3 linked regions of the Homo sapiens genome follow. The protein of the gene in region 2 purifies or fractionates together with the protein of the main gene of each other region. This does not show direct contact. Each region holds a gene or a part of one and is shown on either strand. Other genes may lie near its edges. The genes, in order: MYO5C, RNF144A and ADD1.

Evidence for each region.
Region 1: the proteins of RNF144A (region 2) and MYO5C purify together in Homo sapiens (affinity purification with mass spectrometry, with the first as the bait; one large-scale study listed by BioGRID). This does not show direct contact.
Region 3: the proteins of RNF144A (region 2) and ADD1 purify together in Homo sapiens (affinity purification with mass spectrometry, with the first as the bait; one large-scale study listed by BioGRID). This does not show direct contact.

What each region holds. Positions count from the first base shown.
Region 1 is NC_000015.10:52,247,266-52,250,914, forward strand, and holds part of MYO5C (unconventional myosin-Vc), read right to left. Parts: intron 1,519-3,649; coding exon 1,435-1,518; intron 328-1,434; coding exon 193-327; intron 1-192. UniProt on the Homo sapiens protein: May be involved in transferrin trafficking. Likely to power actin-based membrane trafficking in many physiologically crucial tissues.
Region 2 is NC_000002.12:7,018,359-7,022,007, reverse strand, and holds part of RNF144A (E3 ubiquitin-protein ligase RNF144A), read right to left. Parts: intron 1,536-3,649; coding exon 1,328-1,535; intron 1-1,327. UniProt on the Homo sapiens protein: E3 ubiquitin-protein ligase which accepts ubiquitin from E2 ubiquitin-conjugating enzymes UBE2L3 and UBE2L6 in the form of a thioester and then directly transfers the ubiquitin to targeted substrates.
Region 3 is NC_000004.12:2,850,274-2,853,922, forward strand, and holds part of ADD1 (alpha-adducin), read left to right. Parts: intron 1-3,649. UniProt on the Homo sapiens protein: Membrane-cytoskeleton-associated protein that promotes the assembly of the spectrin-actin network. Binds to calmodulin.

The sequences.
Region 1 (3,649 bases), on a different chromosome or scaffold from region 2:
GCTCCAGTGCGTGCTGCCTTGGAGGTGGAAGTATGACGACGATGAACTTTTTGCAGTGGAGTCCATGTTAGATTGGAAGAGCCCCAGCGTCTGTCCATGTCCAGGCCTGGAATGCGGGTCCTCTGAGTGCCCTGGCTCCCCAGGGCCTGGCCCTGCCTTTAGACCCCTCACTCTCAAACACCTTCTCAGTACCTTGCTCCCAACTGTGGTCCGGAAATGCTTGCTGTTTGGCTTGATGACTTGCTTTGCAGATTTAACTGTAATCATTGAACCAAAAGGAGAAGGAGGAGTTGGATTTTCTTGAAAAAAGTTGGCACAGAGATGAAACTGGAAGGAACAGAGAGGATCTCAATGTCCAAAAGCAACTGCCCACAGTACTCACTCATACAAGCCACGTAAATGGTGACAACAACTCAGCTAAACTAGTGGGCGGTGAACAACCTCACCAACATCTACAGCCAAATCTCAATTCCACAAGACGATCGTCTTTCATAGGGATGGCCCGTGACTTCTTTCCCGAGAAGGGGAACAGAGAAGAAAAGTGTGTAAATGTCTGTATGTGGGTATCACTCTAAGTGTCAGAAAGTGGAAACATCTACTATTCTCACCTCCGTGCCTGGCTCACACTGTGTCTCCACCTGCAATCTCCTCCCTCCTACTCCACATTCTCATCCCTGCAGATCCAAACCCTACCCAGGAATCTCTTAAAATGTTTTCCAGCCCCACCCACTTCGCAATGAATGAATTAATCCCAACTTCTCTGAACCGTCTTCATCTTGTATTTGTACCTCATTTAAAGCACTTACTACCTTCTGCTTTGTATCAGTTATTTCTTTAAATGTCTTATCTTCTCTCAGAGTGAATTTCATATTTTGTTTTGTTTTGTTTTGTTTTGAGACAGGGTCTTGCTCTGCTGCCCAGAAGAAGAGTGCAGTGGCGCAATCATGGCTCACTGCAGCCTCTATCTCCCAGGGCCAAGCAGTCTTCCCCACCTCAGCCTCCCAAGTAGCTGGGACTACAGGCATGTCACCATTCCCTGCTAATGTTTTTTTATATTTTTAGAAGAGACAGGGTCTTGCTTTTTTGGCCAGGCTGGTCTCAAACTTCTGGCCTCAAGCAATCCACCCGCCTCTGCCTCCCAAAATGCGGGGATTACAGGCGTGAGCCACCACGTCTGGCTGGAATTGTGATTCTTCAATGGTTCTATTAGCTGTCCTTCCTGTCATCTGCATGTTTGATTTCTGATTTTGCATATAGTAGAGATTTACAGTAGTTATCTTTTTGAATCTGTGAGCTACAACTTACCACTGTCCAGAGAGTTCACACACACACACACACACACTCTCTCTCTCTCTCTCCTTACTCTTTCCTTATATACATCTAGATCCATGTCAATTATATAATAACTTTAGTTACCCCTAGGACTTTACAGACCTTGCTTGCTCTCAGGATTTCAACCAGCATGTCATAGACGGTGTCTCTGTTTTTCTCCAGGAAACCTTCACATTTATACTCTACCTATACAGAGAAAGCAATTAATTATTCCCAAAGAGGCCAAAGAATATAGCCTCTAAGCACAAGTTTCATCTCTTTTTTAAGAAAGATTAATAAAAAAGGCTACAGAGGCAATCTTACAAAAAGACGTCTGGCTTCTGTGCATCATGGCAGCAGCCCCATTATGTATAAGCTGGGAATGTGTCTTCTCTCCCACCACCTGGGTTTCTCACCTGCCTGCTGATCACTCTGCACTCACCTGTTGGCTCCCTCTGGCCACAGGGGTCCAGTTGCTCCCTGCGGTATGTGCAGTTCCTACAAGAACACCTGACTTAGGTCTCCCTTTGCCTTTGAAGCCACCAGGAGGAGGAAAAAGCTTAGTGGTGTTCATTGGGTTCAAACAGACATCGTTTCCTAAATCAACATTAATGTGGTAGAAAGGATAGAAAAACCGACCAGCTGACCACCAAGCCTTCAAGAGCCACCAAGCCCTCAGAATCAGGTTTAGAGTGGGTCAACCTTTGCACTGCTTGAATCTAGCTTAGAAAAACTCTCCATGCTGCCCTTTCTGATGAAGAAGGCTTCTCGAATGCCTCAAACCATGGCATATCCAGGGTGGCTGCTTCAACATTCAACCTCCCCCTAGTTTATGCCTCTGGATTGCATATCTTAATATGTGATAATTTATTTTTCATAAATTAAAAACGTATATTAAAATTAATTTTAAAAATTGACAATGAGGAAACAGGGGAGAGTGCTGGAATCCGTAAGCAGAGGGTTCCCTGGGCATGGCCTCTGCTTTGTCCCCCAGGTAAGGAAGTATCCTTGCCGGTAGGTAGGTTAAGATCCAGGAACACCGGCTGTTTGCAAACACTTCTTTGTGAATGAAGTACCTGGATTGTTGTACAAATTCTTCCAGAATGGTGGTGTGAGCCACTAGGACAGATAGACAAAGGTGGCAAATACAGAGCTTTCCTGGTCTGGGCGAGCATCTGTGGGGACAGTGTCACATGCAGCTGGTGCCTCTGTTGGGGACTCTGGGACCAAAGGAAGATGTGCTGAGCTGCTACATCTAAGCTCAGCTGACTTGCATTCAATACGACCTGATTTCCCTGGCCAATGAGATTGAAAACCTAATCTAACCCCATAGTGCATGTGGGTTCTTCCCACCAATCAATCCATAGTCCAGCCCAAACGCTGCCTAGTTCTTTTAAGGGAGACTTCTTGGAAGTGGCAGGTGAGAGAATTACATGTCCAGAAACTACATCCTATAAAGAGAGACCCTTGAAAGAAATCCCATATGTGCTTTTTATGGAGTCTGGTCTTTCCCCCTCCCTTTTCCTATGGGACCAGAACCCTGAAATTATGACAATAGCTAGGAAATATAATTTGACATATGATCATTTCATTTCATAGGCATCTTTTCAGGAGCCCATCTGAAAAAGTCTAAGCACTAAAAACTTATCTTTTTTTTTTCTTTTTCTTTTTCTTTTTTTTTTTTGAGACAGGGTCTCACTCTGTCAGCCAGGCTGGAGTGCAGTGGCGTGATCTTGGCTCAATGCAACCTCCGCCTCCCAGGTTCCAGCAATTTTCCTGCCTCAGCCACCTGAGTAGCTGGGATTACAGGTGCGTGCCACCACGCCTGGCTTATTTTTGTATTTTTTAGTAAAGATGGGGTTTCGCCATGTTGGCCAGGCTGGTCTCAAACTCCTGGTCTCAAGCGATCCACCCGCCTCAGCCTCCCAAAGTGCTGGGATTACAGGTGTGAGCCACTGCACCCGGCCAATCCTATATTTTAATATTTTACAGTACTCTGCTAGCACACAAAGGTGATCACAGCTTTCCAGGTTGCTGTCCCCTCCCTCCACCATCAGTCACTCGGGAATGACCAGCTCTGACTCACAGCACCGGCCTCTGCGATAAACATAGACAAGCACAAGCCATTCCTGTGAGCCCTGGCACTGGGCTAGGCCACCAAGGCAACACCCAACCAGGACATGGGAGGAGGTAGGAGCTCCCTTAAGGAAGGAAAACAAATAAGAATGTACATTTAGGGCAGGTGGTTATGGCAATTTTTTCCTTCTGTTTTCTAAGCTTTCTATAATGTGATTTTAACAAAAATTTTTCATTTTAGACAAGTAACATTTGTTTAGTA
Region 2 (3,649 bases):
TATGTGACATCTTCTGATTTAAAAATTTCCACAAAATGAGATTTCTGAATTTTGATTTAGATCATCTTTGGACAATAATTTAAATGAGACTAGAATGTCACAGATAAAGAAAACTAAGTCATCAGGCTCCAAACACTCACCAGCCTCCATCTAAAGTTTTGAAGCCCCTAAGATGCCAAGTACACGTGAAGTATAAGTACAAGTGGTTCGTGCTTGCAGCTGCCTGCCTGATGCAGGCTGCTCAGAAAGGCCCAGGCCCTGTGTGTCAGGAGCTCATCCTGATGGCAGAATCGGCCTTGTCAACGCAAGAACTCAAATCCAATATGTCCAGGGTTGTAATCAATGCAGAGAATCTCAGGGGGAACACAGAGGGTGGAGGCCCCAACCCTGTCCTCGGAACCATGAAGCTTGACAAAGGGATGTGATCCCCACCTGAAGTGTGGCAGGAGCCCCCAGGGAAAGGAGGAGGGCAGAGCAGGGCACTCCAGACACGGGAAGAGAGGTTCGCCCGGAAGGAGACCAGGGGTGTGTGGCAGGGACCCTGAGAGGGTCGGGGGCTAGAACAGGGCACAGGGGTCACACGGAAAGGAACAGGAGCTGGGGACGGTGGAATGGGAAAAGGGGCGCACAGGGAGCAGCTGGTGAGCACACCCTGGGGAGGGTGGTGGGTAGAGTGGCAGCTCCTCTATGAGGATCCTGGACTCAACAGGAGCAGGGGCAAGTGTCCAGCAGAACCACGTGACCTTGTAGATTTTGTAGGAGAAAAAGACCTGGATATGATGAATTTCCTATGCATCAACCTACGAAATGTCAAAGTACAGAGCGTGGTGCGGCAGCATTCTCCTGGGCAAACAGCCCGACTATGGCTGCAGGGGAGGCCGCCACCAGGGAGTGTCTCCCCATCCCCCTCCAGACAGTATTTATGACCAGTGCACCCTACTCCTGTTCTTGTTTCTGTACCCCCATTTCAGATCACCTTCAACACAGTGAAGTCTTGCAGAAACTTCAGGTACTGCAGGACTTGCAACCTTTAAAAGTAACAAACCACGCATGCATTTGTCATTCCAGCCAAGCCGTGTTAAGTGTGGTTCTCACACACCTTTCTATTTCCAGGGCCTCACACAGTGCCTGGTACATAGTCAGTTCTCAAAAATAAATAGACATACAAATAATGACAGGCTTGAGTGAGGCTCAAGAGGTACAGTGTGTGTTAGGGTTGACTGAGCCACAGCCACTTACACTGTAACAGCACTTTTAGGAAGAAAGCATGCCTGCTTCTCCTGGCCCACAGCCATGCCTTTGGTGGCAGCTTGTGTACAAAGGGTACCTGGTCTCCCCGGGGAGGAAGGTGATCGGCATGGTCTCCGGGCAGCCCTGGCCAGGGTGCCAGCTGGCTTTGCAGGTGGAGCAGAATTCCATACGGCAGGCTTTGCACTGCACTGGCTGGGGGGTCTGCAGCCCCACGTCCTGGAGCTGACACACAGCTTGGCAGGTGGACGCCGGGCACCAAGTCCGACAGGGATCAAACAGCACCTCTGGTACAGTGAGACAAAATGGACAAATCAAACTTAAGCCAGAGGGTCATGTGGGCTTCAGAGGAAGGAGCCCCTCAGTGCACGGACAGGGAGGAACATGTCCAGGTAATACAGCCAGCACCACCAGCCCCAACCGAAGCACCGCCCAAGCCACCCTTCCACCTCCACCTCCGCTGTAGCTCTTCCCAACTTCTCCCTTCATGCAACAGACCTCCAGACACCCAGACATCCCTCAGGAATGCTGCTCCTGCCCCTGGAATGCCCTTGGAGCCCTGGGTCAGCCCTGCTTGCCTCTGACACTCAGCTCACAGCTCAAAGGCCTCCACATCCTGGAAAGCTTGGCCCACCTGCCTGTCGGGTTTCTCTGAGCAATGCACATGGCGCTAGCTCATCTGCCTCCCCTAGGGGACAGTTTTCTGAAGCTGGACCCCTGATGGCCCCATGTTGGGCATACAGCCAGCACCAGGAAAATGCTGCTAGAAGACCGAGAGGAAGAGGGAAGGAAGATGGCTGGATTGTTCTTCTAACCAAATGGTTCACCTGCCTAAGATGGCCTCCCCTTCTCAAATCCAAGCCACGAGTTAACTACGGAGTGAAACCAATCCTTCAAGGGCCAGATTTTCTCTCCAAATCACAGCACACATTTCTAAGAAGCCCAATTTAATGGAATTAGCCACAAAGTTTATTTCTAAAAACAAGACACTTTGACACATCTATTTCTTCACATCCTTGTCCAAAAATTGCATTTCTTTAAATTATTGGCTGCCCTTTGTAGGAAGACTGGTTGTTCATTTCATCTTCCCTCTTGTCCAGCATGATGCCGAATTCTCGATCAGTGGCCACCCCAGGGAGCAGCAAGGCTCTGCCAGAAAGCTCTCCCAGGCCAGTGCAATGTGGGCTATTTCCAAAGGCGTTCTGGTAGGCCACTGGTTTCTAAGTTTTCAGCGGGGCTCTTCTTGGGAAGTAGTCAGGACAACTGAGTTTCAGAGACGACTTGAAAGGCGATGACAAGTCCTTGCAAATGTCTGGGCCCTGTGACTGGCCGCCGGGCAGCTCCCGCTCGCCTGTGTCACACATGGGATTCCTACTCACTGGAATCCACAACATGCTGGCGCCGCACGTGGACCGGGACTTCACCTACACGCATTGCCACGGGACCAGCAGGAAGTTAATGACAAATCACCCACTGGGTGTCCTGACGGTGCACACGCATACGTATGTGTAAGGCTCTGTGTGTTTACCATGTTCCCCAAATACATGGGGAAGCCAGATTCAGCTCTCCAGAAACCATCTTGTGTAGGGTCTAGCTTTGAAATGATCTAGTCATCTAATCCAGGGGCTGGCAAACTTCCTCTGCAGAGGGTCGGATAGTCATCATCTAAGTCTGAGGACCATGTTGTTTCTGGGTTTCTGTCGCAGCTACTGGGCTTTGCTGTTGCATAAAAGCAGACACAGTGATCTGGAAATGAATGTTCTAGCAAAACTTGACAGCAGCAGGCCACCGGCGGGACTGGATTTGGCCCACTAGCCATGGCTGGCTGACCCTTGATCTCATCTGGCTGCCCTCTGCCTTTTTTTTTTTAAGCATGAATTAATCAACAGCACAAAACTGTCAGAATGTTAGGGGTGGCAGAAGATTAAGAAGAACTTGATAATAACAAGGAACGCTGGAGGTCAGGAACAGGTGCTCTACTCTAATTATCTTCATTATAATAATCTAAAATCCCCAGGATGCTCCTCATACTGAATGAATGGACAAAATTAGCTCTTCTCTTATTTGTTGATAGTTTCCACATTTGCTTTTCTAAGAATGTTCCTAGCTGTCAGGTCTGACAAAATGGCTTTTTGAGAAAACGCAGTTGTTGTCTGTGGGTCACATGTGTGGGGGCAGATGCCTGGGGCTCCCCTGAGCTGACAGTCACAGCAAAGCAAGGAGGGGGTGCACATGCCAGCCTGGGGCACTGAGCGCCACGCTGAGCAGTGAGGAGGAAACGCCAAAGGCTAAAGGCAGCTGGCCTGGGTCATGCTCCCATCCCGTCCCCGCGATGCCTCCGACAACTCTCTGCCTGCCCTCTGTGAGTGCTGTGGGGTGAGCCCAGCTTTGTCCCTGATGA
Region 3 (3,649 bases), on a different chromosome or scaffold from region 2:
TTTGTTTTTTGTGAGACTGAATCTCACTCTCTTGCCCAGGCTGGAGTGCAGTGGTGCGATCTTGGCTCACTGCAACCTCCACCTCCCAAGTTCAAGCGATTCTCCTGCCTCAGCCTCCTGAGTAGCTGGGAACAGGTGTGTGCCACCATGCCCGGCTGATTTTTTTTTCTGAGACGGTGTCTTGCTCTGTCGCCCAGGCTGGAGTGCAGTGGCACGATCTTGGCTCACTGCAAGCTCTGCCTCCCGGGTTCACGCCATTCTCCTGCCTCAGCCTCCTGAGTAGCTGGGACTACAGGCGCCTGCCACCATGCCCGGCTAATTTTTTGTATTTTTAGTAGAGATGGGGTTTCACCGTGTTAGCCAGGATGGTCTCAATCTCCTGACCTCATGATCCGCCCGCCTCGGCCTCCCAAAGTGCTGGGATTACAGGCGTGAGCCACCGCGCCTGGCCACGCCCGGCTAATTTTTATATTTGTAGTAGAGATGGGGTTTCACCACGTTGCCCAGGCTGGTCTTGAACTCCTGACCTCAAGTGACCCACCCGCCTCGGCCTCCCAAAGTGCTGGGATTACAGGTGTGAGCCACTGTACCTGACCCCCAGTAGGCAAATCTATACAGGCAGAAGGTAGATTTGGGGTTGACTGGGGCTCCAGCTGGGGAGAATGGAGTGGGAATGAGGAATGACTGCTAATGTGTATGGGGTTTCTTTTTGGGTGTTGAAAATGTTATAACGTTAGATTGTGATGATTAGTTACACAACTCTGAATACACTAAAACTCTGTATACTTCATTTAGAGACAGTCTTGCTCTATTGTTCAGGTTGGGGAACAGTGGTATAATCATAGCTGACTGTAACCTGGAACTCCTGGGCTCAAGTAATCCTCCCCACCTCAGCCTCCGGAATAGCTAGGACTACTGGTGCATACCACCACAGCTGGCTAATTTTTAAAAATGTTGCCACTCAAGATGTGTGGCCCTGGATCAAAATGGTGAAATTCTCTGAACTAATTTTTCTCATCTGCAGAAATAGGAGTAATAATAATAACAGTCATATCTAACTGGAGGTGTGAGGCTGTGGTAAGCAAACTTACAATGCTTACAGTATGTGAGGATTCTGTCAGTGTGCTTTCTTTCCTTCTTTTCCAGAACATAGAGGATGGAGGAGCAGGCCTTAAGAGGGAAAGACACAGAAGATGCAATAGAGAGCCTTGTAGCTCTTTTTTGTCTGTCTCTCCCTCTCTCTCAAAATAAAGCCTATGTAGAGGTATTTTTTTGTCTGATACAGCTGCATGTGTTTGCAGTTTAGTAGGAACTTTGTGGTTAAACCATGCTTTCTAAGATTTTCTTAAAAGGCCAACCTTGTTGCCAGATGATACCATTAATCAAGTTATTCAAGTTATTGTCACATAGGGCTTCAGGCAGGAAGGAAGGTTAGGAATGGTCTTTAGTCTCATAGAATGAACTCCCTTTTGGTCTGAGTGTCTCCTTCAGTAGGAAGGGATGTGATGTTAATTGACCAGTCTTTAGGGGGGAAATAGATGACCCCCACCATCCGGATACTCAGTTTTTATTCTTTTTTTTTTTTGAGATGGAGTTTCGCTCTTGTTGCCCAGGCTGGAGCGCAATGGCTCGATCTCGGCTCACCGCAACCTCCGCCTCCCAGGTTCAAGCAATTCTACTTCAGCCTCCCGAGTAGCTGAGATTACAGGCATGCATCACTACGCCCGGCTAATTTTTGTATTTTTAGTAGAGACGGGGTTTCCCCATGTTGAGGCTGGTCTCGAACTCCTGACCTCAGGTGATCTGCCCGCCTCAGCCTCCCAAAGTGCTGGGATTACAGGCATGAGCCACAGCACCCGGCCTCTTTTCTTTCTTTCTTTCTTTCTTTCTTTCTTTCTTTCTTTCTTTCTTTCTTTCTTTCTTTCCTTTCTTTCCTTTCCTTTCTTTCCTTTCTTTCCTTTCTTTCTTTCTTTCTCTTTCTTTCTTTCCTTCCTTCCTTCCTTCCTTCTTTTCTTTTCTTTTCTTTTCTTTTCTTTTTTTTCTTTTCTTTTCTTTCTTTTTTTTTTTTTTTGAAAGAGAGTCTCGCTCTTTCGCCCAGGCTGGAGTACAGTGGTGCGATCTTGGCTCACTGCAACCTCCGCCTCCCGGGTTCAAGCGATTCTTGTGCCCCAGCGTACTGAGTAGCTGGGATTACAGGTGCACAGCACCACACCCGGCTGATTTTTGTGTGTTTTTGTAGAGATGGGGTTTCGCAGATACTCCATTTCAGTTTTTTTCTGAGCAACGTCTCCAGGGACTGAAGCACACATACTTTGACAACAGAATCACCAGCAATGTCACTGACCTAGGGTGTCTGCAGCATTCAGTGTCTTCTATTTTCTGTACTAGGTGTTTTCTGTACTGTTTGTAAAGCAGGAAATATCTTTTTTTTTTTTTTTTTTTGGAGACAGAGTCTTGCTCTGTCACCCAGGCTGAAGTGCAGCGGTGCGATCTTGGCTCTCACTGCAGCCTTGACCTCGTGGGCCCGAGCAGTCCTCCCACCCAGCTTCCTGAGCAGCTGGGCCTGCAGACCCACCCCACCACACCCAGCTAACTAAAAAAATTTTTTTTTTAGTAGAGCCAAGGCCTTGCTATGTTGCCCAGGCAGGCCTGAAGGTGCTTTTAAACTCAGATAAGCAGGACATTTGTAGCTGTGGAAATAGCTGTAATCTAACCATCAGAGTTGTTTTAAGGATACAAATTACATATAGTGTTTAAAGCATAATGAATGTACAGGTTGCTAGATTGGGTTTTACTCTGTTCTTTCTGTAACTTTTTAGAAGTTGGTCACTTACTTTTTTTTTTTTTTTTTTTGAGACAGGTTCTCACTGTGTTGCCCAGGCTGGAGTGCAGTGGCACGATCTTGGCTCCCTGCAACCTCTGTCTCCCAGGTTCAAGCAATTCTCCCACCTCAGCCTCCCCAGTACCTGGGATTATAGGCGCCCACCACACCCAGCTAATTTTTATAATTTTAGTAGAGATAAGGGTTTCACCATGTTGGCCAGGCTGGTCTCAAACATCTGACCTCAGGTGATCTGCCCACCTCAGCCTCCCAAAGTGCTGGGATTACAGGTGTGAGCCACCGGCGTCTTTTTCTAGTATAAGTGTTTAAGGCTATATAGCTCTCTAGAAGCATCTCTTTAGTGAAGCCAATAGTTTCCAACTGTAATATTTTTGTTAGTAATGTATATTTAAATTTTCATTATGATTTCTTTTTTGGCCCATAAATTATTTTAAAATGTACCTTTAAATTTCTAAATATATGGTTTGAAGAAACTCTTCTGTTATTATGTTGTTTTTTTTTCTTTCAGACTGAGTTTTGCTCTCGTCACCCAGGCTGGAGTGCAATGGTGCAATCACGGCTCACCGCAACCTTCGCCTCCCAGGTTCAAGCGATTCTCCTCCCTCAGTCTCCCAAGTAGCTGGGATTACAGGTGCCCGCCACCACGCCTGGCTGGTTTTTGTATTTTTAATAGAGACAGGGTTTCACCACATTGGCCAGGGTGGTCTTGAACTCCTGACCTCAGGTGATCCACCTGCCTCGGCCTCCAAAAGTGCTGGGATTAAAGGCGTGAGCGACCGCGTCTGGCCGTTATTATGTTTTAATTGC